4 linked regions of the Homo sapiens genome follow. The protein of the gene in region 2 interacts with the protein of the main gene of each other region in a pairwise test. Each region holds a gene or a part of one and is shown on either strand. Other genes may lie near its edges.

Region 1 (7,029 bases), on a different chromosome or scaffold from region 2:
TGGCTAGGACTTTTGCAAAGTGGAAATATTATCTGATAGATGGTCCAATGACCTCTACTTTAGAAAAAAAGTGTATATGGTAAAATATATAAATTTGAAATAACTACTGGTCTACTTAGGGGAAGCAGAGCGGAGCACTGGAGAACACAGACTTTGGACCCAGAAGGCATGTATCCAAATTGTGTTTCTGCTTATTAGCTGTGGGATTGCGAGCCAGTTACTAACTCTTTATCTCTCGGTTTCCTCATCAGTAAAAATAATAACAATGGTAATATAGTTTGGATGTTTGTTCCCTCCAAATCTCATGTTGAAATTTGATCACCAATGTTGGAAGTGAGGCCTAGTAGAAGGTGTTTGGGTTATGGGGCTGGATCCCTCATGAATGGCTTGGTGCCCTCCCCAGGGTAATGAGTGAGTTCTTGCTCTATTAGTTCTCATGAGAGCTAGCTGTTTAAAAGAGACTGGCATTTCCTCCCCTCTCTCTCTTGCTCCCTCTCTCGCCATGTGACATGCCTGCTCCCCCTTCACCTTCCACCATGACTGTAAGCTTCCTGAGGCCCTCACTAGAAGTAGATGCCAGCACTAATGCTTCTTGTACTGTCTGCAGAACCATAAGCCAAAATAAACCTCTTTTCTTTATAAATTAGTCTCAGGTATGCTTTTATAACATCATAAAATGGACTAATACAAATAGTATTAGTATAGCATCAACCTAATAAAGTTATGAAGATTAAATAAGTTAATATTTACATAGTGCTTTGAATAGTGCTGGGAACAGACTAAGGGCTATATAGGTGCTTGATAAATTGATGCGACCAACAAAAAAGATATTCCCACTGACTGTGTTCCAAGAGTTGTGGGAACTCTTGTGGGAAGCAGGAATTCCTGATAAGTAAGGTATTATGGACTGAATGTTTGTGTCCCCCCAAAATTCCTATGTTGAAATCCTCACCCGCAAGGTGATGGTATTGGGAGGTGGGGCCTTTGGGAGGTGACTATGGCATAAGGGCAGAGCCTTCATGAATGGGATTAGTCCCTATGATAAGAAGAGATACAAGAGAGCTTGCTTCTCCTCTTCCTTGTTGTCAGATGAGGATATGGCAAGAAGACTGCCATCTATAAAGCAGGAAAAGAGCCTTCACCAAGAACCCAACCATACTGGCAGCCTGTTCTCAGACTTCCAGACTTCAGAACTGTGAGAAATGAGTATTTGTTGTTTAAGCCACCCAGTCCATTGTAGTTTTGTTATAGCAGCCTGAACTGACTAAGACATAGGAGGATTATACATTCTAACTTAAAATGTCCCCAACGCATTAGTCCTAGCTGCTTGGGAGGCTGAGGTTGGGGGGATCACTTGAGCTCAGGAGCTTGAGGCCAGCCTGGGCAACATAGCCAGACACTGTCTCTAAAAAATAAAAGTCCCCAAAATACATATGCCCTTGATTTGCCAATTCCACTCCTGGGACTCATTTCCATAGGAAAAAAGTTATCAGTACATGAGAACACATGATGTACAAGGATGTTTATCACAATATTGTTCATAGTGGTAAAGAACTGGGAAAAAAGTGAATATGCAGAGGGGCTATTACACAGACACCGGCTGGGCGCGGCGGCTCACGCCTGTAATCCCAGCACTTTGGGAGGCCGAGGTGGGTGGATCACTTGAGGTCAGGAGGTCAAGACCAGCCTGGCCAACATGGTGAAACCCTGTCTCTATCAAAAATACAAAAAAATTAGCCAGGCATGGTGGCGCACACCTCTAATTCCAGCTACTCGGGAGGCTGAGGCACAAGAATCACTTGAACCCAGGAGGTGGAGGTTGCAGTGAACAGAGATCACGCCACTGCACTATAGCCTGGGTGACAGAGTGAGACTCTGACTCAAAACAAAACAAAACAAAACAAAAACAACAACAACAACAAAATAGACCCTGGAAAGAATGCTTTGGAGAGATTTTTAGGAGATATTATTAAGTCAGAAAAGCAAGATACAGAAAAGCATATGTAATAGGATTCCACTTTTGTCAAAGAAACAGATGTGGCCGGACACGGTGGCTCATGACTGTAATCCCAGCACTTTGGGAGGCCGAGGCGGGTGGGTCACGAGGTCAAGAGATTGAGACCATCCTGGCCAAGATGGTGAAACCCCATCTCTACTGAAAATACAAAAATTAGCTGGGCGTGGTGGTGTGCGCCTATAGTCCCAGCTAGGGTCTGAGGCAGGAGAACCGCTTGAACCCGGGAGGCGGAGTTTGCAGTGAGCCAAGAATTGCACCACTGCACTCCAGCCTGGGCGACAGAGTGAGACTCCATCTCAAAAAAAAGAAAAGAAATAGATGTTTAATTGGGGTGTGTGTGTGTGTGTGTGTGTGTGTATGGATATATACGGCATGGAGAAAAATATGGAAGAACAAGCACTTAGAAAGTTAACATGACTTCAAGGGGCACGGATTAGGGGGTAATGGAATGTGGAAGATTAGGGGGTAATGGAATGTGGAAGAGTGTGTGGCTAGGAAGGCTGGGGAAAAGGAATCTGCAATAAAAACAGCATCTATGATATCATTCCATATCTAAAATTATACACACATGCATGTGTACCTATGTGTTTATACAAAAGAGATCCATGAAATGATCCTCACCAAAATGGTAAAGGTAATTACCTTAGTGTGATAGGGTTCCAGAGGCCCTTCACTTTCTTTTGTTGTTGTTGTTTTGGTTTGGTTTTTTTTTTTGAGACAGGGTCTCACTCTGTTGCCCAGGCTGAAATGCAGTGGTGCTATCTTGGCTCACTGCAGCCTCGACCTCCTGGGCTCAAGTGATCCTCCCACCCCAGCCTCCCAAGTAGCTGGGACTGCAGGCATGTGCCACCATGCCTGGCTTTTTTATTTATTTATTTTTTTTCTGAGACAGAGTCTTGCTCTGTGGCCCAGGCTGGAGTGCAGTGGCACAATCTTGGCTCATTGCAACCTCCACCTCCCAGGTTCAAGCAAATCTCATGCCTCAGCTTCCTGAGTAGCTGGGATTACAGGAAGCATGCCATCACACTTAGCTAATTCTTTTTTTTTTTTTTTTTGAGACAGGTGTGATCCCAGCTCACTGCACCTCCACCTCACGGGTTCAAGTGATTTTTGTGCCTCAGCCTCCTTGAGTAGCTGGGATTATAGGTGTGTGCCACCACGCCTGGCTTATTTTTGTATTTTTAGTAGAGACGGGGTTTTGCCATGTTGGCCAGGCTGGTCTTGAACTCCTGACCTCAGGTGATTTGCCTGCCTTGGTCTCCCAAAGTGCTGGGATTACAGGCATGAGCCACCGCACCCAGCCTCAGCTAATTTTTTTGTATTTTTAGTAGAGAATGGGTTTCGCCATGTTGGCCAGGCTGGTCTTGAACTCCTGACAAGTGATCCACCCGCCTCAGCCTCCCAAATTCCCAGGATTACAGGCATGAGCCACCACACCCTGCCCATTTCTTAATTTTTTGTAGAGATGAGGTCTTCCTATGTTGCCCAGGCTGGTCTAAAACTCCTGGGCTCAAACGATCTGCCCAGCTCATCCTCCCAAAGTGCTGGGATTACAGGAGTGAGCCACTGTGCCTGGCCCCTTCACTTTCTTTATATTTTTACGTATGTTCAAAATCGAAATAGTGATTATAAAGCTATGTTTTCATTGTAAAAAAATTTAACTTAATCTAAATGTCCAAATTATTTGTGGGCTCTAGCTTGACATGGTCAGAACAGTAACCAGGCATCGGAAGACATTAATTGTAGTTCTGCTTTTGCCACTGAGTAGCTGCCTCACTCTAGGCAAGTCCCTTCACCTTTGTGTACCTCAATTTCTTCATCTGAAAAAGAATCCTTACCTTACCTCCTTTTATGGTGATTATGACGATAAATGTGAGAATGGATCGGACATAGTGCTCTGAAAACTAAAAATTACATTAATAATGGAGGAGTTATTATTATACTGTTTCTTAGATATCAAAACAATTAGAACTTACCAAAGCAGAAACTGACCAGGGACCAAATATTCCTCCTTCTCCAAACACTGGCTCAAAGAAGGGCACAGCAACCAGCAACATGGCAGATGACATCGGAGCCTGGTAGTACAGCAGCTGCATTGAGTTCACTTGTAATTCATGCTGTTTGGCTCCTACCCACTGAAAATTAGGAGATAAAACATGTCTGGCACAAAAGAAATAGTATCACATAATCAAAGATGCGACAACTAGAGTCACAAAGATGGGAATGTGGGGTATAGACTAGGGGAAGATAAAATGTCTAATTATTCTACAAGATTTCAAAGACCAGTAAGCTATATGAATGCCCTTTAAGCACCATGGATGAAAATAGCTCTATAAATTTAATTTCTGATAATCTAGCTTCTTCTCAATTCTTAGAAGGAGGAGAAAAGTCCTCTATTTCCTTCTACCTGATCCTAGTAAATAGGGAAAAATAAATGCATATAAGGGCCTACAAGGATAAAAGATCTTGGGAAAATAAGGGAGAAATAGAAATTCAGGTGATTAGGAATACAGATGCAGTGTTGGACTTCATTTCTTTCTAAAAATGGCAAAATTTAAAAAATGGAAGACCGGGGCCAGGAGCAGTGGCTGACACCTGTAATCCCAGTACTTTGGGAGGCCAAGGCAGGCAGATAACCTGAGGTCAGGAGTCCGAGACCAGCCTGGCCAACATGGTGAAACCCTATCTCTACTAAAAATACAATTAGCTGGGCGTGGTGGCGGGCGCCTGTGGTCCCAGCTACTCGGGACGCTGAGCAGGAGAATCGCTTGAACCAAGGAGGCGGAGGTTGCAGTGAGCTGAGATCGCGCCACTGCACTCCAGCCTCAGTGATAGAGTGAGACTCTGTCTAAAAAAAAAAAAAAACAAAGACAGAGGTTGGGGGGACACGATGACAATGGGGCATGGGGGCAGGTTAGAGATGGTTGCCAATGTGTGTGGCTTGAAAAGGTATGTGGTCTCGTCAGTTGCTTTGGAAAACCCAATCAATGGTAGAAGAGATTTTCCTCTCTCTGGATGACTTTTCTGTGGATACTATTCCTCATCCCCCACCAATACACCTAGATACACTGGATAATCACTAACCCTAAAATACCATACCATTCAGTAGAAACAACATCTCAAGACCTCAAATCCCATTCGTCCACAAAATACTTCACAAATATAACTGAAAAAAAGGCTTTGAAGAAGATTTAACAGGACTGTTTGGATCAGATCTGGCAAGAACAGCTAGGCTTTTGAATGACTTCTACATACTTCTTGTTCCTGTAGGTCTGGGTATCTTGTTACATAAACTCTAAGTCTATAGAAATCCATCAAGACAAAAATAGAAGAGCAGGGAATTTGAACCATACTCCTGCCAGCTTTAACTAAGAGTCCTCTGTGAATATGAAGGACAAAGAACTGATTCTTCTGCTGCCTGCTCCTTGGGGCACAGCAGCAAGCAAAAACGGATACAGAGGGTGTGTGCTCACCTGCCTTTCCTTTTGCAGCCTCTTCAGGCAGCCGCGTGTCTTCGCCACAGGACTGCCTGGAACAGCAGGGGCTCTCAGGCCTCCACTGTCCCTCAATGCAGCACAGCCTGGCTCCTGCCACCACCCCTCTAATGCTCTCCTAAGGGCACTATGATCTCCATGGACATGTCCAGACTCCCTGTGGCCCTTCCTGCGAGCCCTCTTTGCAGAACCTGCAAGTTTTGCTTGGAAGAACTACCCTCTGGTTTGTACTCCTCCCTCACTGCCTCCTGCACTTAACAGTTTTTAAGGCAGATGCCTGCCTTCCTCTTTCATCGCCCTGACTGATGTCTTTTACTATTTGCTGAGATCTACTGCTCTTCCCTCATCGCTTGAGCATCCTTAACCTTATATTGGCCAGTCTCCTGGCCATCTCTACTTATATAATCTGCAGGAACTTGTTTAAAATCAACTGGTGCCTTTTTTCTACAAATGGGCTCCTCTTGTGTGTTTCCAATAATTGATGATATAATCTCCCTCAGGGATCAGAGCCTTACTTTCCTCTCTCTCACATTCAGTCAGGTTCTCCTATGTTCCCCAAAACGCCCCTGGAGTGCCTTTTAACCTTTCCCTGTCCATTCCCACCGCCCTAGCCCAGGCCCTTCCTGCCTGTCCTGTGAAGTACAGGTAGGTTCCTGACTGCTCTGCCTTTTACCCTTCCTTCCCTCTTACCCACCCTTCATTGCCATCAGTTACTTTTCTAAAGACAGGGGAATGATCAAGTCAGTCCCTGTCTGAACTCCTCTCCTGGTGCGTGCTCAATAAAGATATACTTCCTTAGCATGGCTTCACGACCCTGACATCTGGTATCACCCACTCCTCAGCCTTGTCTTCTCACAATGCACCTACTGCCTAGCCTCACCAAACAAATCAAGTTCTCCAAAAATGCTCCAGACTTTCACACACACTGCAAGGAAAAGACCAGCTGTCCTTCCCTGCTGAGCTCATTTCTGTGTGCCCTTCAATTTAAATTGTTAACTTTTCCGTAAAGTCTTACCTCACCGCCCCTCTTTAAGAGCTGCCACTTCCTCCTTGGTGTTCCTCAGAATTTTCCTCCTACCTTGGGGTACATATGCTACTGTGACCAGCTGTCTCTTTGTGTTTCTACACTGCTGGACTGTAGCTGCTTTTCATCTTTGTATCCTCAAGGGTGAACATAATGCAGAAAAGATGTCTGCTGAACGAATGAATGAGTCAACCATCTTTCTACAACTCAAGCTAATAGCTGGTCACTTGTCTTTTAACTCCTTTTAATGTCTCCAGCAGTATAAGAGAAACAACATAGAAATTATCCCAAGATACTGTGGGCAGATACAACTTTCTTTAAGAGGAATGTTTTGGGAATATACCTATTTTGTAATGGTACCTTTACCACTTACTGATAAGAAACTGTCCATTAATCTACAATCATTCCTTGGTCAATCTCATGTCAAATATCTACCTTAGGGATATAGAATCCTTTGATTCTAATCTATAGCAATTTTGAGACTTGTGTGAACA
Region 2 (7,974 bases):
TGCCCAACCTAATTTATTTTCTTTTAGCAACTTTGAACTATGAGCATACTGGGGAGGGAAACCTCTAAGCGGAACTTCTTTCCCGTATGGTTATCCACTCTCAGGCAATTTTCCTCCATTATTTTGGAGAGAATTTATTCTATAACCCTGAAGACGAGTGCAGCGCTCCTTCACAACACACACGTGAGCTGGGGCTGTAGCAGGTGGCCTGCCGACCAGCGTCTCCCCAACCCCCACAACATGCACTCAAAGTAAACAACAGCATTAGACAATTAGAAACCTACTTCCAGTCAACCTTACGCTCACTGAGGCCACTGCAGCACCGCCAGCCACGTCTCCAAAGCAGGCGATGGGAAAGAAAGAAGGAGTCTCCAAAATGAGCACCCCTGAACCTCCCTCAGATGCAGCCTGGCCCAGAGACAAACCTCGAGACGGGACTCGGACCCAAAATCCTCCTCCGAGGTCGTTGCAGGGGACAAACCTCCCTGCCTCAGAGACAACTCTGGGGAAGAGGCAGCCAACCCACTCGCTCACCTAAAAATCCCTGGCAGGGGCAAAACTAACACCCAGGGACACATGGACCAATGGCTGCCCATGGCCAGGGCTGGGATGAAGGCCACGGAGCAGGGAGCACCCCGGCTCATGAACACGGGACACCTCAGCATCAGAACTCATCAAATGGACACGAAAGGGGTGTATTTCATGGAATGCAAATCACACCTCAATAAGGTTGACTTAAAAACTAACAGGCGGGCCAGGCGCGGTGGCTCACGCCTGTAATCCCAACACTTTGGGAGGTCAAGGTGGGTGGATCATGAGGTCAAGGGATCGAGACCATCCTGGTCAACATGGTGAAACCTGGTCTCTACTAAAAATACAAAAATTACCTGGGTATGGTGGCAGGCACCTGTAGTCCCAGCTACTCAGGAGGCTGAGGCAGGAGAATCACTTGAACCCAGGAGTCAGAGGCTGCAGTGAGCCGAGATTGTACCACTGCACTCCAGCCTGGCGACAGAGCAAGACTCTGTCTCAAAAAAAAACAAAACAAAACTAACAGGCAAAGAAGCAGGTACGTGATTACTCAGTGACCAGAGTCAGAAGCAGAGTTCTTGACACCAGCTGCCTGGACTCCTTCTCTCCACCCCTCCACCAGGCCCTCTTCATAGGAAGAGCAGCAGACACCTTCCAATCTGCCCGGACAGAGAGGCTGGGATCACCCAGAAGAAAGAAAAATTTCAGACGTTTTTGGCCTTAGAATGCAGCTGTGAGACCTCATTTCCTCTGAAAACTCACCCTCCCAATTATGTCTGCCTTCAACAACTGTTAAAATTAATTTCAATTTCCTTAGCCTAATACAAATACAAAGAGGAAGTTGGGGAGAGGAACAAGACAGTCTCCAGAGAGAGTGACTTCCTATTTAAATAAGGCAGGCCAGGCGCCGTGGCTCAGCTTGTAATCCCAGCCCTTTCAGAGGCCCAGTGGGGAGGGATGCTTGAGGCCAGGAGTTCGAGACCAGCCTGGGCAACAAAGTGAGACAACCCCCCACTCCCCTGTCTCTACAAAAAATACAAAAAAAACAATTAGCCGGGTGTGGTGGTGCGCCTGTGGTCCCAGCTACTCGGGAGGCTGAGATGGGAGGATCACCTGAGCCCAGGAACGTGGAGACTGCGGTGAGCTGTCATGTCATCATGCACTTCAGCCTGGACCACAGAGCAAGACCCTCTCTCAAAACAACAAAGAAAAACTATACAACATGAAAAAGGAGGGCAGGAACGGCTCCTCTCCACAGGCAGGCCTAGGCCAGTGCCCAGCTGAGAGGTCCCTGCTAAGTACCCATGTGGAACATCATGCAAGGAGGCGGATCTGGAGATTTTCTCTGAGATTCTGTGCTCCAACCCCACCGTTTTTCTGGAAAAATAATCTCACCCTAAGAAGTGACTTGCCTGCAGCCACGTACCCCATCCACGGCAGAGTGGGACGCTGGCCCAGCAGGGAGGTGTGGACCCTGCTGCTCCCCCGGCCTCAACCAGAAACCCCAAAGGAGAAACCCTCTTCTCCGGGTGCAGCCCAGGAAAGCAAGCCCCCAACTTACCAGAAGAGTATCCGCAAAATGTTGGCCACCAGCAGCACCAGGCACACGTAGGTGGAGAAGCCGTCGGCGTTCTGCGTCCTGCGAATGTCCCGATACTGCGGGACGTAGGGCACCACCCCTCCGAAGACCATGGCCGCGGCCGCGCCCCAGGACACCAGCTGGTGCAGTGGCACCAGGAGCCAGTCCAGGCCCTCGGCCTCCATCGCAGCGCCCGCCTGGCCGAGGCTGTCACGGGCTCCGCGCCCCGCGGGCCACCGGCCGCCTGCTCATCGCCGCTCCGCGCGCTCCTGCGGCCTCGGGGCCTGCGGGGAGCGGGGAGCTGCTCGAGTTCCGCCCAGGGAGGCTGGGGCGGCGCGCACGGACCCGACCCGACCCGCGCCAGCCGCAGGACCCGAGGCAGAGCGGGGGCGACCGGGGCCCGGGGCGCGCGAGGAGCGGCCCCTGCCTGGGACGGGGGGGTGTCTGGGGGTCCCGAGACGCTCCCGGAGGGGGCTGGGGAGGGGTCCCAGCGCCGGGGTCGAGGACGGGCGAAGCCCCTGGGGTCACCGCCCGGGTGCGCTTAGCCGGCGGGGGTCCACGCGCGCCCCGGGATGGGGTGGGGGAGGGGGCGCAGGGCCCAGGATCGGGGCGCACTGTTCGGGGGAGGGTCACAGGGCCTAGCATGGGGGCGCACGGCTCGGGGGAAGGGGGCGCAGGCCCAGGATGGGGGCGCACGGCTCGCGGGAGGAGGTGCCGGGCCGGGGACCCCACAGGACCAAGCCAGGGGACTGAAGGCCGCGACCAACTGCCCCGGCCCTGCGTCCTCGGCCGCCCTAGGCCGCCCCCCGAGGACCCCGCGCCGCCCCCGCGCTCCTTACCTGCGCCCCCAGCCCCGCGCCCAGCGCCCCGCGTCCCCGCGCCGCTGACCCGCGCGCGTCTCGGCGTCAGTCCGCTCAGGCGCCGGGAAACCCCGCCCCGTGACGTCACAATGCCGGGCCCCGCCCACGCCGGAGCTGCGCGGAGGCGCCGCGGTGTCCTAGAGCGCGCTGGGCAGGGCGGGCGCAGGCGGGGCCGGGAGCCGGGGCTGTCGGGGCGGTGGGGGCGCGTGGCTCCTCCCGCCCGGTCGGGAAATACCAGCCGGGCGGGGCCGGTCCCTCAGGCCTGGCGCCCACGTTAACCCGTCTCCAGCTGTCCCGGCGCGCGGCCATCCAAGCGGAGGGCGTCGTCCTGGAGGGCCGGGGGCGCGGGGTCCGGACGCCCCTCTCACGCGTGTCCTGAATGCGGGCCACCCGGGGACGAGTCTCGTCCAGCTCTGTCCTGACCCAGGAGACCCGGGGACCCGGCTCGGAGTTTGCAGCGCCCAGAGGCGGCCGGGGTCTCGGGAAACGGAGCGCCCCCCGCGGGTCTCCGCTCCGATGCAAGTGCCCCACGAGCAGATGCGCCGGGGCCGTCGCCGGGGGGCCGGCTGGACGCGCGGCCGTCACCGTGGCCATTGTCATTATCGTGGTTGCGGCCACGGTCGCTGTCGCTGCAGAAACGCGGGGCGGCCTCTCCCCATCCCCGTGTAGTTCTCCGGGCTGAACCGTTGGGCGCCTATTTGCAGAAAAGGCAGCTCCTGAGCCTCAAGACAGACTCGGGGGCCAGGCGTGCGTGAAGCCCGGGCCCTGCTGCCGGCCTCGCGTGCCAAGCCAACTCCGAGCCCCACACCCGCCCGCGGGGAGCTGCCCTCGCCCGGGACCCTCTTGGCCCGCGCGGGTGAGGACTGAGGGCGAGGGGCGCGTGGATGAGGGGCGCGCGGGTGAAGAGTGAGGGGAGCGCGGGTGAAGTGTGAGGGGAGCGCGGGTGAGGGGTGAGGGGCGCGCGGGTGAGGGGTGAGGGGAGCGCGGGTGAGGGGTGAGGGGTGAGGGGAGCGTGGGTGAGGGGTGAGGGGTGAGTGATGCGCGAGTGAAGGGTGAGGGGCGCCTGGGTGAGGGGTGAGGGGTGAGGGGCGCGCCGGTGAAGGGTGAGGGGAGCGTGGGTGAGGGGTGAAGGGTGCGCGAGTGATGGGCGGGTGTGTGTAGGGTGAGGGACGCGTGGGTGAGGGGCGCGGGGGTGTGAGGCGAGGGGTGCACGGGTAAGGGGCGAGCCGCGAGGTTGAGGGGTCCACGCTGAGGGTTGCTTCCCCGCCAGCCGCGGCCTCTTCTCCACGATCCCGGCCCCCTGCCCCCTGCCCCCTGCCCGACTGGTTTTATGGGGGATCATAAGGACAGTCACCACCTAACTAGGAGCAAATCCCCAACAATCGAGGAAACAGGGCGCTCCTGCCTTGCGCCCCCAGGCTGGCGTTGGAACTTCTTTAGAGCCAGCGCTGCGGAGCCCCAGCACCAGGAACGTAGAGGTGAGTAAAAGGCACAGCAGGAAGCCTGGGAGAGAAAAAGCAGCTGCCCCTGCTCAGCCGCGCCCTAGCCTGAGCCCAGCAGCCTTTGGGATCATCTGTCCTCTCTGCCCTGGAGGTTGGAGTAAGCTCCGGACCTCCTTGACCCTCACGGGAGCACTGGGGTCCCAGACGCTATCCTCGGTTATCTTAAATCCAGAGGCTGTGGAGGCATGGGGCAAATTGTGCCCGCAGCCTGGGGCCTAGAGCTGCATCTGTGCACGGGGCCTCCAGGAGCCCGGCTCAGTGGACGAAATCTGGCATGCTCGGACGTCACCCCACAGGCCTCACGCCTCAGAGGCACCCCGAAAGGTGAGTTGATGACTGCAGAGTGAGTTTGTACCTTTTCGAACACCACCTGCCGGGGGTCCGAGCCCCCACCCCCAGTCTACATCAGCCAATCACAGCTCATTGCAGGTGCTGCGCTTGTCACATAGCTTCCTGCAAACAAGAGAAGCCGACCAAGCCATGCACAGCTGGAAAATGGCCCTTATAAAGCCATCAAGTCCTAATCCAGGCAACCTGTAAATATTACCTCGTATGGGAAAACAATTTTTTTTTCTAATGTCATTAAGGATCTTGAGATAGAGAGATTGTCCTGGATTATCCAGGTGGGCCCTAAACACTGTGGCTCACGCCTATAATCCCAGCACTTTGGGAGCCTGAGGCAGGTAAATCTCTTGAGCCCAGGAGTTCGAGACCAGCCTGAGCAACATGGTGAGACCTCGTCTCTACAAAAGATAGAAAAATTATCTGGGCATGGTAGTGTGCACCTGTAGTCCCAGCTACTCCTGAGGTGGAAGGATTGCTTGAGGCCAGGAGGTTGAGGCAGCAGTGAGCCAGGATCGCACCACTGCACTCTAGCCTCGGTGACAAAGTGAGACCCTATCTCAAAAATAAATACATACAACAGAGACAGGGTCTCTGTGTTGGCCAGGCTGGTCTTGAACTCCTGGCCTCAAGCGATCCTCCTGCCTTGGCCTCTCAAAGTGCTGGGATGACAGGCATGAGCCAGCGTGCCCGGCCACATGCATCTTTGTAAGAGGGAGGCAGAAGGAAATTTGGTGCCACACAGAAGAGAGGGCCATGGGAAGATGGAGCAGAGATGAAGATGGGGCCTTGAAAATTGACGTGATGCAGTCCCAAGCCAAGTAACGCCGGAGCCACCAGAGGCCCCAGAAACAAGGAGCAGATTCTCCCCAGGAGCCATGCGAGGGAGCCTGGCCCTGCCAATGCCTTGATTTCAGCACATTAAAAGTGATTTTGGACTTTTGGCCTCCAGAGCTGTGAAGGAATAAACTTCTGCTGTTGTAAAAGCCACTTAGCTGTGGTCATTTGTTGCAGGAGCCAATGAGTGACTGACAAGATCAGAGCTGTGACACAGAGGAAGCAGAGCTGTGCCTCATGCTTTCCAGGCTCTGCTCATGAGAAACAGGTCACTGGGTTGGCCCGGTGCAGATTAAGGTGTCACGTAGGAGCATGAATACCTCAGGGAACCACTTAAGAATTTGCCTAACACATGGTGCTTATAAAAGGAAAAGCAAACAAAGCAACCTTGTTCTGAGAGCTGGGACATCAGAGGAAGATTGGAGCCACTGTTTCTCACTCAGCCTATTTCTTTTTATTTTATTTATTTATTTTATAGAGACGGGGAGCTCACTATGTTGGCCAGTTTGGTCTTTGAACTCCTGGCTTCAAAGGATCCTCTCACCTAGGCCTCCCAAAGTGCTGGGATTACAGGAGTGAGCCACCTTGCTGGTCGCGCACCCCATTTTTTAAGGAAACCTGTACGGAAGGTGGATTGGAAGTCTCACTTTAGGAGCCTGGCTCAGAAGTTCCGCAACTTCAACTGGTGTCATGTGACGTGCTTGGCAGTCACCACCCCCATCCTTACAGCAAAGAATAGCAGGGCAGCCTTTCATGGGCCCATCAGAGAACTAAGGCTGCCAGACAAACTGGCACCCTGCTCTGAAGAGACAGGCACATCCAGGGAGAGACAGCACCTGAGAGCTGCTCACCCAGAGCAGAAACTCCTGGATAAACTGGCTTTAGCAGAAAAATTAGACAACATGCAAGACCAGATAGGTGATATCAGCAGAAAGATGGAAACAATAATAAAAAAAAAATGCTAGAAGTCAAAAACACAATAGAAATAAAGAATGCTCATTAGTTGACTAGACAGAATGAAGGAAAGAATCAGTGAATATGAAGATAAGTCAACAGAAACTTCCCAAACTGAAATTCAAGGAGAAAAGGTGATGAAAAAAAAAAAAATCAACTGATCTAGTTTGAGTGTGTGTCCCCACCAAATCTCATGTTGAGTTATAATCACCAGTTTTGGAGGTGGGGCTTGGCAGGGGGTGTTTGGATCATGGGGGCGGGTTCCTCATGAATGGCTTGCACCATCGCTTCATCCCCTTGTGATGAGTAAGCTCTCACTCTGAGTTCATGTGAGATCTGTTTTTGTTTTTGTTTTTGTTTTGAGACGGAGTCTCGTTCTGTTGCCCAGACTGGAGTGCAGTGGCACAGCACAGTCTCAGCTTACTGCAACCTCCTGGGTTTAAGTGATTCTTGTGCCTCAGTCTCCCGAGTAGCTGGGATTACAGGCTTGTGCCACTATGCCTGGCTAATTTATTGTATTTTTAGTAGAGATGGGGTTTCACCATGTTGACCAGGCTGGTCTCAAACTCCTGACCTCTTGATCCACCCACCTCGGCCTCCCAAAGTGCTGCGATTATAGGCATGAGCCACCGCGCCCGCCTGAGATCTGTTTTTCTTTAAAGTGTCTGGCACCTACCCACACCCTCACTCTCTCTCTCTCTTGCTCCTGCTTTTACCGTGTGAAATGCCTGCTCCCACTTTGCCTTCCGCCATGAGTAAAAGTTCCCTGAGGCCCCCAAGAAGCTGAGCAGATGCTGGTGCCATGCTGGTATGGCCTGCAAGAACTGTGAGCCAATTAAATCTCTTCTCTTTATAAATTACTCTGTCTCAGGTATTTCTTTATAGCAATGCAAGAACAGCCTAATACACCAACAGAAAACACCATCCAAGAACAACATCAAAGGATATGATTGGTACAATGGGAGAATCGGAAGGAGGAAAGAGGAGAAGGGGCAGGAGAAATGGTGGAATGGCAAGAATGTCCCCAAATTAATGACAGACACCAAACCATAGATCCAGGAAACATACAGAACATCCATCAGGACAAATAACAAAAAACATAAAGCAAAACAAAACAAAAAACCACACCTAGGCTTGTCACATTCAAACTGAATAAACCTGCCTGACTGAACCCTCGTCCACCAGCCACAGCTACACCTCTGACAAGACAAGAGACAGATTTCAGTAACTCTCCTGGTAAGAGACCACTGACCATGGCTGGTCCCGGCTGGTTTACAAACTCTGTGCACCAAGTGCCTTTGAGTCTTAGAAAGACCTTTTGATGTATAGGGCCTAACTGTAATACATGTAAATGTTACATCTCTACCCC
Region 3 (4,782 bases), on a different chromosome or scaffold from region 2:
GCAGCCAAGTTCCTCTCTCTGAGCCCAGTTTGTCCATCTCAAGATTGTGTGTGATCATACCCACCACACTGGGCCACCAGGAGGAATGAGCGAAGCACCTCATGTCAAATGCCTGGCCCAGGCCTGTGTCTGGCAGGGACTCATGGCTGCGGAAGGGTCATTATTTGCCCCCAGGGATTTCTAGAGAGGATCAGGATGCCACGAGGGATGCTATTGGAAGCAAGTCACACAGAAGCCAGAGCCCTGGGCTTTCCTAGCAGCACTGGACATGGGGCAGGGAACAAACCCGAGCCACACTTCTCAGAGGGTGGGCATGGCATTGAAAACGACGTGTGTAGGAAGCTTTTCCAATACACAAGCTGGGCCCCGCCCCAGAACCTTGAGGGGCAGGAGGAGCACTGAGACAACCTTGGGTGGGGTGAGGCAGGGGGACGGCGGGGGGAGATTTCCAGTCCCTTAGCTGGCGGAAGACTCCTGAGCTGGCAGAGAGCCCTCTTCTTGAAAGACTCTCATGCACAGGCCATCAGGAGGATCACAAAGTTGTTTATTTTCCCACCTATAAGAAAAGATGGATGATGCAGAGTGCCGAGAAATCCCAGCCATTCCCCTGGTGAACATACTGGAGGCCCACACGAGCCTAACAGGCTGTGTCTTTACCAAGGGATTTTCCTCTATTTCAACAGAACTGCAATTTCCCTTCCAAGTGCTCCCCGAGGCATTCTGTCATGCTGCTTCTGGGGATAATTTATCATCCACGTCTGTGCTATTCTACAGCAGCCATGTCCTTAGAACATAGAAAATCTGATTGGCCAAAAAAAAAAAAAAAGTGCCAAAATGTCAAATTTCATACAATCAGGGCAAGAACTGGTCTTCTTTTGGCATTTGGACTGGCTGCCCCCTAAAAAATGTCTTTCTTTCCTTGGCCCTTAGCAAGGCCCAGCCAGAGGCAGAGAAAGGGGGTGACACTTAGCCTTCGCATTAAAAAATGAGCAAGGTTTTCAACCAAACAGTTGAGCAACTGGGCTCATTTTTTAAACACCGAAAATACATCAGATGGACTTATTCATCTGGCTCAGCTTAATACATGTTGGCCTAATGCTACAAATACCTAACATTAAAAAAGTCTGAGGGTATAAACAAGTACAGACCACAGTCACTGGCAGCAATGATTTGGCCTGGAGGTGCACCTGCGGCTGTGCGGCAGACCAGCCCTCAGAACCAGTACTCAGAGACGAAGATGTGGACGTTGACAACATTTCGGTGGGAGACCACGCCCCCGACCACATAGTTCATCTCCAGCTTCAGGACGGCATGAAATGGGCCCACGATGGGCCGCACCTGGCGCACGACACCTGCGGAGAGAGCAGAAGGTGTGCTGGAAGTTAGAAGGGACTGCAGCAACGTAGAGATCTGGGAAATGGTTTCCCTTGAGGAGTTTCAGAGCTAGAAGGAGGCATAGACCTCATGGAGTCCCATCCTACGCCAGATGCTCGAGTCCCCTGAATAACATCTCCTTCCAAGTGGTCAGCTCAGGCTCTGCTCCTGCCTCCAGGGACTGGTGAAAGTGAACTCACTACTTGCTGGGACAGCCTTTCCATCATGCACTGCCCAACCTGGAGGAAAGTTGTGGGTGTGGGCTTTGAAACTGGATGGCTCTGGGATCAATGCCAGCTTCTGAGCCCAGGTTTTCTGCTCTACCACCATTTACCTGACAGGTGTTTTTTGTTTGTCTTTTGTTTTTGCGACGGAGTTTCACTCTTGTTGCCCAGGCTGGAGTGCAATGGCGTGATCTCGGCTCATTGCAACGTCCACCTCCCGGGTTCAAGCCATTCTCCTGCCTCAGCCTCCCGAGTAGCTGGGATTACAGGCATGTGCCACCATGCCTGGCTCATTTTATATTTTTAGTAGAGACGGGGTTTCTCCATGTTGATCAGGCTAGTCTCAAACTCCTGACCTCAGGTGATCCACCCGCTTTGGCCTCCCAAAGTGCTGGGATTACAGGCATGAGCGACCGTGACTGGCCTACCTGAAAGGTTTTAAGGGAGCCTAGAAGAGGGCCTGGCATGCAGTGGGTACCTGATAGACATCTTTCTCCCTCCTTCCAACCCCCTGTGCCCAGTTCTGACCCCTGAGAAGAAATGAAGCAGGCGTATCCTCTCCCCCAGAACATCTGAGGACTGCAATGGGCCCTGGATCCTCCTGCAAGCAGAGCACCCCCAGTTCTCCATGGGGCATGCCTCCGGACCCCTTGCTGTGCATGCCTCTGTGGAGGCTGACACCTGAGCTCACTGTTCAGTGTTTGTGATAACAGGGAAGCAAGAGGTGGCTGGAGTGACAGAGGATCAGAGCAGCAGTGGCGTCCCCAGGGCAGTCAAAAGGAGGATGGGTGGTGCAGGGAGACTGGTGTCAGTTCTGGGGAAACAGCTGGGGGTTGCAGGGAGCTCTGCCTGTACCAGGGTAGGGATCAGGCAAAGACCGTGGCCAGAGGACAGGGCACAGACAAAGCTCAGCCACGGCAGGGTAGAAGAGGAGCAACCCCAGGCATTCTGCAGATTCCAGGGGATCCGGGTTAGCGGGTAAGGGAGTGGGTGCCACAAGTCCTCCCCAGCCTGGGCCCGCCATCTCCATGGCCCCCGACCAGGCCCAGCTGGCACTGCCTTCCCTCTGCAGGGCACCCAAAGCCTCACAGAGACTCTCCCATACTCTGTACGCAGTGAGAGTATGGGACAGTCCTCACTGCACTGCGGAGAGGCTGAGGCCCTTTTGAGGCCTAGGTTCCCCAGCAACAAACGGTGCCATGCCCCTGTGCTCCTGCACTGCACGATTCAGATGCCCAGCATCTGCCAAGGCATCAGCTCCAGCTGTGCAGAGCGGCCTTCCCACCAGAGCAGAGCACTCAGCAGATCCCCTTCGCATGCACACATGTGCTAAACAGGTGCTGGGACAGTTCCCAGGGTTCCAGACATCATGAACAGGATGCTGGTTTCAAAGCTGGTGGGAGATCTAGGATGAAAGGTATGCACCACGCTCTGATGGAGGGTGTGCATTGTCCAGCGGGGGCGAGAATGGAGGTGGGGAGGGCTGGGGAGTCAGGACAGGTTTCTTGGAAGAGGCACCCCTCCTGCAGAGGAAGCTGCACAAGCCAAGGCTACAGGCTGCTCCCCAGTGTCTGCGGCCAAACAGGCACAGACCTATGGGTGCTGACATTTATGAATGAACCGCCAAGGTCCCTTCTCCGTTCCACATGTTCTGACAGTAGGATTTGTCTAAGGTGGTGTTGAGGGTGGGGATGTGGGGTAACTATCTAACAGGTGGCTCTCTGGTCGTACCATCGGCCAATTTCTATGGCAAATTTCCGGTACCACGTGGCAACACTGAAAGTGGACTTGTGGAGAGATGTGTACAAGCAGCTCTCCAGAGCTGGTGTGAGCAGTGTGAACGGTGTGAGCTGGCACTGAGACACCTGCTTGGATGCTCTGTGAAGAGCGAATATGGAGCCTGCAGCTTCACAACCACAAGTTGAGAAATAGCTACTGACTGTTTGCCACAAACGGCTGATTCCAGGCTGGATTCTGTGAACAGTTCCTCTGCAGGCTTAGGAAACGTGCACGGTGACAGCCTATCTCCACCTCTTGGTGCCCAGGACACAGCAAAGGCTCAGGGGAGAACTGAGGGGTCAGGAAGGCCTTCGGTACGAGTGGCTGGTTCCTGGTCAGGAACATCAAGTTCACGCTCAGAAAGAGAATCTGGGCACAACGTTCCCCCCTTTCGCTCTCTGGGCTTATGTTTCAAAAGTGAAAGGCCCAGCAGCTGGGGTGGAATTTCAGGCTGTTCCCTAAGCAAACATGGGCTTTAGCTCCGATGGAGAGATAAGCACAGGCTTCTGCAGGCTGTCAGCACCCTTGCTCTGCCTGCTACCTGGTGATGACATTGAAGCTTTGTCCTGCTTGAAAGCCCATGAACGTCTTCAGCTCCCGGCAAAAGACGTGCGCCTGTCACCACCCTGGGCTCGCCAGCAGAACCTGATGACGGGGTCACTCCTGCCTGCCCCTCCCTGGGCTGGGTCTGCCCACCAGGGTCAGTGTGGGCTTACAGGGCTGAACCTAACGTACCCCCGTGGGCCCCCTGTATGTCATATTTTTCTCTCCCCAGGCCCGAGGCCAACAATGGTGCCCCCGCTAGCCACAGTGACCTGCCAACTTTACTGGTACTAGGCGCAGAGACACTTCTTACCACCCTTCCTGGCATTCAGAGGTTTGGGGCTTGAAGGAGAAGGAGAGGCTGGGTGAGCCTGTGAATCACTGTAGGGAGGAATGGCAGGCACCTCCACAAGCAACAGTCAGATATGTCTTTGTTTCAGCTGGGTGCAGTGGCTCACGCTTGTAATCCCAGCACTTTGGGAGGCTTAGGCGGGCAGATCACAAGCCCATGAGTTCGAGACCAGCGTGGGCAACGTGGCAAAACCCTGTCTCTACAAAAAATACAAAAATTAGCCAGGCATGGTGGTGTGTGCTTATAGTCCCAGCTACTCAGGAGGCTGAGGTGGCAGAATTGTTTGAGCCCGGGAAGGTCAAGGTTGCAATGAGCCAAGATTGTGCCACTGCATTCTAGCCTGGGTGACAGAGCAAGATCCTGTCCCAAAAAAAAAGAGATCTATTTCTGTTATTATTATATTTCTGTATATTATATAGTTTCATATATGATATATAACTATTATACATATAAAACAATATATTAAAAATATATGTTATAAAGTATGTCAAATTTATATAACTGTATTTT
Region 4 (7,029 bases), on a different chromosome or scaffold from region 2:
TCTGAAATACATGAGAGAGACTGGTAGGAAGCAGGGTGAGTGGAGTTACGTTAACCTCTGAGGATGCCATTGAGTATTTATCCATGCCTCAGTCTGGAAATAGTGGATGTTTTGTTACTAGTTCTCTGGCAAAGGCCCTACATTTTTCTTGTTCACCTAATTTATGTCTGTATCCGTAGAGGTGAGCTAGTCAGTGTTCCAGAGCTGTGTTCTCTACTGTAAGATCACTGTGCTCTTCCCACAAGGGGTAGGGAGACAGTATGAGGAGAGGCTGTTTTCTCCTTTTATAATCTCAGCATGATGTGAAGTTTGGTCTTCTTTAGGAGAGAGGCTGTGCCCCCGGCACATTCTTTGTATGTGTGTGTTGCTCTTTGTGGCAAAGTACGAAAGTTAAGTGTATCCTGTCCTGCCCGTCTCCTTTTCCTCTACTAGTCCGTAGTGCGTCTTAGCACACTAATGTGTTAGGGTTTTTCCATTTTATGGAATTAAAAATTGGAGGATGTGGTAGGATTGGTTAAAGCAGGATGCAGGAGGAGCATTGGACTTAAAAGCCCCCAGGAGCCTGCAGTTTCTGTGCTGCTGGGAGAGGGAGCACTGGTCCATGAAAGTGGCTGTCACGTTAGTTTGTGCTTTTGATTGTTCTTTTCTTAGTAAAGAGGATTTGACTTTGAAGAGGGACCTAATCTTGGGCTCTGGCTATTAGGTCTGAAGCCTAGAGCTGCAGTAAATTGTTAACAGACTCTCTCCTGGGATCAGCTACTCTACTGCTTGGGTCTCCTGGGACCAAAGTGTCAGTAAAGACATTTTATAGAAGGGAAGAGGCTTTAAAATGAAAGTGACTTGAGTGGTGGTGTTTTTATTTCCAAAATGGGATTGGCTTTTATTTCGCTTTTACCCTGGTAGCTGCCACTAGAGGTTCTGAGGCGTAATTAGGGTGGTACAGGTGGAGTGTGTTGAATTTCAGGAGAAAGACACAGATGTCATTTCATTCCCTTACTCATAAATTTCATTAAAAAGTAAAAGCCCCTTTACACTGTTGGTGGCAGTGTACATTAGTTCAACCATTGTGGAAGACAATGTGGCGATTCCTCAAGGATCTGGAAGCAGAAATACCATTTTACCCAGCAATCCCATTACTGGGTATATATCCAAAAGATTATAAATCATTCTGCTGTAAAGACACATGCACATGTATGTTTGTTGCAGCACTATTCACAATAGCAAAGACTTGGAACCAACCTAAATGTCCATCAATGATAGACTGGATAAAGAAAACGTGGCACATATACACCATGGAATACTATGTGCAGCCATGAAAAAGGATAAGTTCATGTCCTTTGCAGGGACATGGATGAAGCTGGAAACCATCATTCTCGGCAAACTAACACAGGAACAGAAAACCAAACACCACATGTTCTCACTCATAAGTGGGAGTTGAACAGTGAGAACACATGGACACAGGGAGGGGAACATCACACACCATGGCCTATTGAGGGGTGGGGGCTAGAGGAAGAATAGCATTAGGAGAAATACCTGAGGTAGATGATGGGTTGATGGGTGCAGCAAACCACCATGGCACGTGTATACCTACGTAACAAACCTGCACGTTCTGCACATGTATCCCAGAACTTTAAGTATAATAATAAAAAAAAGTAAAAGCCCTGCATGAATTAGTTAACCTCATTCAGTAACTCTGAAATACTCCAGAGCACAAGAAAATATATTTAGCCCCAGCACGGTAGCTTACGCCTTTAATCCCAGCACTTTGGGAGGCCAGGGTGGGCAGATCACCTGAGGTCAGGAGTTTGAGACCAGCCTGGCCAACATAGTGAAACACCCCATCCCTACTGAAAACACAAAAACTGGCCAGGTGTGGTGGCGTGCCCCTGTAATCCCAGCTGCTAGGGAGGCTGAGACAGAATCGCTTGAACCCAGGAGGCGGGGGTTGTAGTGAACCAAGATTGTGCCACTGCACTCTAGTCTGGGCAACAGAGCGAGACTCTGTCTCAAAAGAAAAAAAAAAAAAAAAAGAAAATACATTCAATGCTTGCCAGCAATTTACCTGTTTATTTTTCTGATGTTTGTCTCTCTCCTAGTGGCTCACCTATATATTGACACTGCCTTTAGAATTTGGGTGTCGTGGCTTCATTGTTGCATCTGTGCTCCTCTTTCCCTACTAAATGTCCTTTATCAGGGACGGAGCCAGCAGCATTTGCTTGTTCTCAGCAATCTGAGTCTCTGGTCTTCCTTGTTCCCTGTTTGGGGGCTTCTGCATTGCCATTTGGTGGTGGTGGTGGTGGTGGCAGTGATGTATCTGTGTTTGCTTCTGTCTGTTCCAGCTCACTTAAGGTGTGATTGCTAAGTGAATGCTGCACCCTACTTTCATCTTGATTTTTAATATATTAAAATAAAATCTTTACTATTGTTTCTCTTTTTGAATTAATAGGTATTCAAAATAAACTCTCAGATAAACTCTCAAATTTTCAAAAACATGGACATAAGAAGATAAAGGCACAAATGGGGCCAAAGAAGTCCACAATTTGTTTTTTCTTGATTTCTGTATTAGTTGAATCTTGTGCAATGATTATATATTCTTATGAAATTATAAAAAAAGAATAGAGGAAAATATTAAGAACATTTGTCAGTGTCACCTCTTAAGGAGAATACAACCTTACAAAACACAGGTTAAATGGTATTAACTGGGTTTCTTAACTGATATTTTATAAATTCTTCTTCCTTTTGGGAGAAAGCACTACAGACCTACCAGTTTCCTCACCCCAGGTGCTAATGTGTGACATCTTACCGCCTCTCCTGGTCACCAGTCCAAGTGAGAGGCCCCCTTTTCGTTTCTCCTTGACCTTCTGTGTTCCAGGCCTCCTCTTCTGGTTTGATGTCCCGTCTGTGCTGCCTGGTCTCCCCTCCCCAGCTGGAGGAGTGACTCTCTGTAGTGATCAGGACTCTCTGTATTGTAGGTGGCAGATGCCTTTGTGTTCCTTGCTGACCTGCCTGGGCCTCAACGTCTTGTTCCTCACTTTGAATGAGGGTAAGAACTGCCTTCAGGGGCCAGTGGTTTTTGTGAACGAATGTGGGGGAAGAACACCTGGATGCAGCCCCACCCTATGTGTGGGAGCTGCTCTTGTTGCCCTGGAGTTAGTGTTCCTCTGTGTCTGCTTGGAGTCAGAAACAGCCTCCAGAGGGACGATCCAGGCTGAGCTGCCTGCTGTGACCTTGGGCAGATTATTGAACTTCCCTGTTAAGGCCTAATTTTCCTTACCTCTAGAGGGAGGATAAAAATGACGCTTTCCTCCTAGAGTATTTGTGAGGAATGCGGCAGTCTAGGCATAATACTTAGCACAGTGCCTGGCGTGGAAGAGGCAGCCAGTGCATTGTAGCTGCTCTCAGTATTATCGTTGTTTCCTTCTTGACTTCCTGCTGAGGATGCATTGACCTTTTTCCATTTTGGTTTTTAAGCTGATTCAAGGGTCATCTGGGGACATGGCATGAGTAAAGGTACTGGGATGAGGAGCTGATAAGGGATTTTTGCCATATCTGTTGCTTTTCTCTGGTTCAGCTAGTGAGCCTAACGGGAGCTGCTGGGCAGTCACCAGCAGTGAGGAGTGGCATGAAGCCTTTGAGATAGAAGTGTGGACACATGGGTGTCTGTTGGGGTCATGGGTAATGTCTTCTATGAACCTCTTACTACAGTGCATACCGTGACCCTACCCTATCCGTGGTTGGCGCTGGCAGATGGCCACATAAAAAGCCAAACCCCTCAGGGTGAGAATAAAGAGTCTGGGACAGAATGTTTGGAGGAGCTGGGCCATTATTCATGTTTTTGTTCTTTTACTTACCTTGTATTTCTCAGGTGTCTTCTTTGTTTCCTCTGGAGATAGGGATTGAGTAGGTTGAAAATAAATCCAGTTCATATAAGATCTCATTTTCTGTTTCTTAGTTGGACTCATCTTTACCTGTTCAAAACTTCCTAGGATGTTTGATTTTTCTATATATGCTCCCAAAGTAAGTCAGTTCCTATGACAGATGTTTAGTAAGCATTTATTATGGGCCCGCTGCTCTGTTAGCTTGTTGTTGGGGTGCCATGTTACATGGAAGAAGTTCTTTCTTTGAATTTTATCTCGGCTTCGCCATTTCTCAAGGCACAATCGTCTGCAGTGTCCTAAAAGCTGAACGAAAGGCTTCTAGCTTCCTTAGTGGCCCAGAGGTCCGAGTGTCAGGCATCAGGAGCTCCTGGCAGTCACACTCCAGCGTGAGCCTCCTCTGTGCTAGCAGCATCTTAAAACGTATTAAAAGTGAGGATGGGGCCACAGCAGTGACCAAAGGGACAAAGTCCCAGCCCTCAAGAGCTTACTTCATTAGAGGAGACAACAGACATGCCTGCAATGTGTCATGTGGTGATAAGGTCTATGAGGAATGAAGCTGGGTTAAGGGGGCTGGAGAGTAGGGGTGAGACACTGTGTCGTACAGAGCTATCAGGGAAGGCCTGACTGGCAGAGCCCTGGAGGAGGTGAGGAACAAGCAGTGGGCGTCTGGGTGGGCCGACTCCTGGTCTTTGCTTACCTGTGTTACCTGCAGTGTTTTTGATTCTGCAGGTGCATGGTACTCAGTAGGTGCCCTGATGATTTCAGTGCCCGCCCTGCTGGGCTACCTTCAGGAGGTTTGCCGGGCACGGCTGCCTGATTCCGAGCTGATGCGGAGGAAGTATCATAGCGTGAGGCAGGAGGACCTGCAGAGAGGTCGCCTGTCTCGTCCCGAGGCCGTGGCTGAGGTGAAGAGCTTGTGAGTATGGAAGAGAGGCCAGGGAGGTGGGGGAACAGTAACAGCAGCCATGACACTAAGTGCTAGCTTTGTGTGCTCGACATCATATTAGGCAAACCACAGCTGTTACTTCATTTAACCTTTTTAACAGTTCCGGGAGGTAGTTAATATTAACATCTTCCATTTATGGGTAAAGAAAAAGGCTGACTTACTTAGCTAGAAAGTGGCCAAGCTGGGATGAGAATCTCGATCTAGCTGTTTGTTTTCACAGCTTCTGTTCTTTCTTTCTTTTTTTTTTTGAGACAGAGTTTCGCTCTCGTTGTCCAGGCTGGAGTGCAGTGACGCAATCTCGGCTCACTGCAACCTCCGCCTTCCATTGGTTTCAAGCGATTCTCCTGCCTCAGCCTCCCAAGTAGCTGGGACTACAGGCACACACCACCACGCCCAGCTAATTTTTTGTATTTTTAGTAGAGACCGGGTTTCACCATGTTTGTCACGATGGTCTCGATCTCTTGACCTTGTGATCCGCCCGCCTCGGCCTCCCAAAATGCTGGAATTACAGGCGTGAGCCACCACGCCTGGCCCTGTTCTTTCTGCTGGAGAGACAGTTTAGGGTCTTGACTAAGCATGTGCATGTATAAGCCACTGCCTGGGTTCAAATCCCAGCTCTTCCATTTACTTGCTGTGTAACATTGGGCAAGTTGCTTAGCCTCTGTGTGTCTCAAGTTTCTCATCTGTTAAATGGAATGATAACAGGGCTTACTCAGAAGGTGGTTGTGAAGATTGAACAGGTGTCTTGTACTGGGGAAGTGTTGAGTAGATATTAGTTATCATCACTACACTGTGGAGAAACTTCGTAAACATGACAGAGCTGGTACTTCTGAGGAAGCATTTTAAGACTTGAAAAATATTCATCTAACAACTTCAGTAGCAGTGGACGTTTACACCTCCCTTCCCTGGAGTGGGGTCTCTGCATTCTCTTGAAATAGAATAGGGGCAAGAAAAGTTATAAACAAACAGATGGCTGGGCCTCACCCCAGAAATTCCGAGTCAGTTATCTGGAGTGGGGCCTGGATATGTAGTTTTTTTAAAAAAGACTTTCTTACTTTGAAATAGTTTTATATATATATACACATATATATATATATATATATATATTTTTTTTTTTTTTTGAGACAGAGTCTTGTTATGTAACCCAGGCTGAAATGCAGTGGCGTGATCTCGGCTCACTGCAACCTCTGCCTCCTGTGTTCAGGCGATTCTCGTGCCTCAGCCTCCAGAGTAGCTGGGATTACAGGCATGTGCCACCATGTCCAGCTAATTTTTGTATTTTTAGTAGAGATGAGGTTTCATCATGTTGGCCAGGCTGGTCTCGAACTTCAGCCTCAGGTGATCTGCCTGCCTTGGCCTCCCAAAGTGCTGGGATTGCAGGCATGAGCCACCGCACCCAGCCTGAAATAGTTTTAAACTTAAAGAAGTACAGGAATAATACCAAGAATGCCTTTTACCCAGATAGAACAATTATTAACATTTTGCCATGTTGGCTTCGTCTATCTCTCTACATATACATATTCTTTTCTTTTTCCTAAACCATTTGAAAGTAAGTTGCAAACGTGACTTAATACTTCAGCGTGTATTTCCTAAGAACAAGGACATTCTCTTAAATATCCACAGAGCTGTAATCAAAATTAGGAAACTTAACGTTGATAACTAATGTATAATTCGTAATCGGATTTTACCAGTTGTATTAATAAAGTTCTTTTTCTTCTTTTATTAATTTTTTTCCTTTTTTCTTTTTTTTTTTTTACTTTTTGAGACGGAGTTTTGCTCTGTCATCCAGGCTGGAATGCAGTGGCATGATCATGGCTCACTGCAGCCTCAACCTCCTGGACTCAAGTGATCCTTCTGCCTCAGCCTCCTGAGTAGCTGGGACCACAGGCACATGCACCATACCCTGCTAATTAAAACAATTTTTTTGTAGAGATAGGGTCTCATTGTCTTGCCCAGGCTGGCCTTGAATTCCTGGGCTCTAGCAATCCTCCTGCTTCAGCCTCCCAAAGTGCTGGGACTACAGGTGTGAGCCAGTGTGGGTGTCCTAATAAAGTTCTTTGTATCAGTTTCCCTGATCTGGGATCCAATTCAGGATTATACATCATGTTTAATTTTTTTATGTCTCTTTAGTCTTCTTTAATCTGGAGCAGTTCCTCAGTCCTTGTTTCTTGTGACCTTGACATTTTTGAATAGTACAAGCTTATT

The links.
Region 1: the proteins of SLC66A2 (region 2) and SLC35E3 interact in binary tests that used the Homo sapiens proteins (3 or more experiments, as listed by UniProt).
Region 3: the proteins of SLC66A2 (region 2) and FBLN1 interact in binary tests that used the Homo sapiens proteins (3 or more experiments, as listed by UniProt).
Region 4: the proteins of SLC66A2 (region 2) and ZFYVE27 interact in binary tests that used the Homo sapiens proteins (3 or more experiments, as listed by UniProt).

Annotation. Positions count from the first base shown.
Region 1 is NC_000012.12:68,749,155-68,756,183, reverse strand, and holds part of SLC35E3 (solute carrier family 35 member E3), read right to left. Parts: intron 4,153-7,029; coding exon 3,994-4,152; intron 1-3,993. UniProt on the Homo sapiens protein: Putative transporter.
Region 2 is NC_000018.10:79,948,632-79,956,605, forward strand, and holds the start of SLC66A2 (solute carrier family 66 member 2), read right to left. Parts: upstream 3,023-7,974; 5' UTR 2,950-3,022; intron 2,400-2,949; exon of another isoform or gene 2,395-2,399; 5' UTR 2,296-2,394; coding exon 2,093-2,295; intron 931-2,092; exon of another isoform or gene 888-930; intron 1-887.
Region 3 is NC_000022.11:45,596,877-45,601,658, reverse strand, and holds the end of FBLN1 (fibulin-1 isoform D precursor), read right to left. Parts: intron 1,353-4,782; coding exon 1,213-1,352; 3' UTR 524-1,212; downstream 1-523. UniProt on the Homo sapiens protein: Incorporated into fibronectin-containing matrix fibers. May play a role in cell adhesion and migration along protein fibers within the extracellular matrix (ECM).
Region 4 is NC_000010.11:97,740,122-97,747,150, forward strand, and holds part of ZFYVE27 (protrudin), read left to right. Parts: intron 1-2,972; coding exon 2,973-3,043; intron 3,044-3,471; coding exon of another isoform or gene 3,472-3,510; intron 3,511-4,607; coding exon 4,608-4,794; intron 4,795-7,029. UniProt on the Homo sapiens protein: Key regulator of RAB11-dependent vesicular trafficking during neurite extension through polarized membrane transport. Promotes axonal elongation and contributes to the establishment of neuronal cell polarity.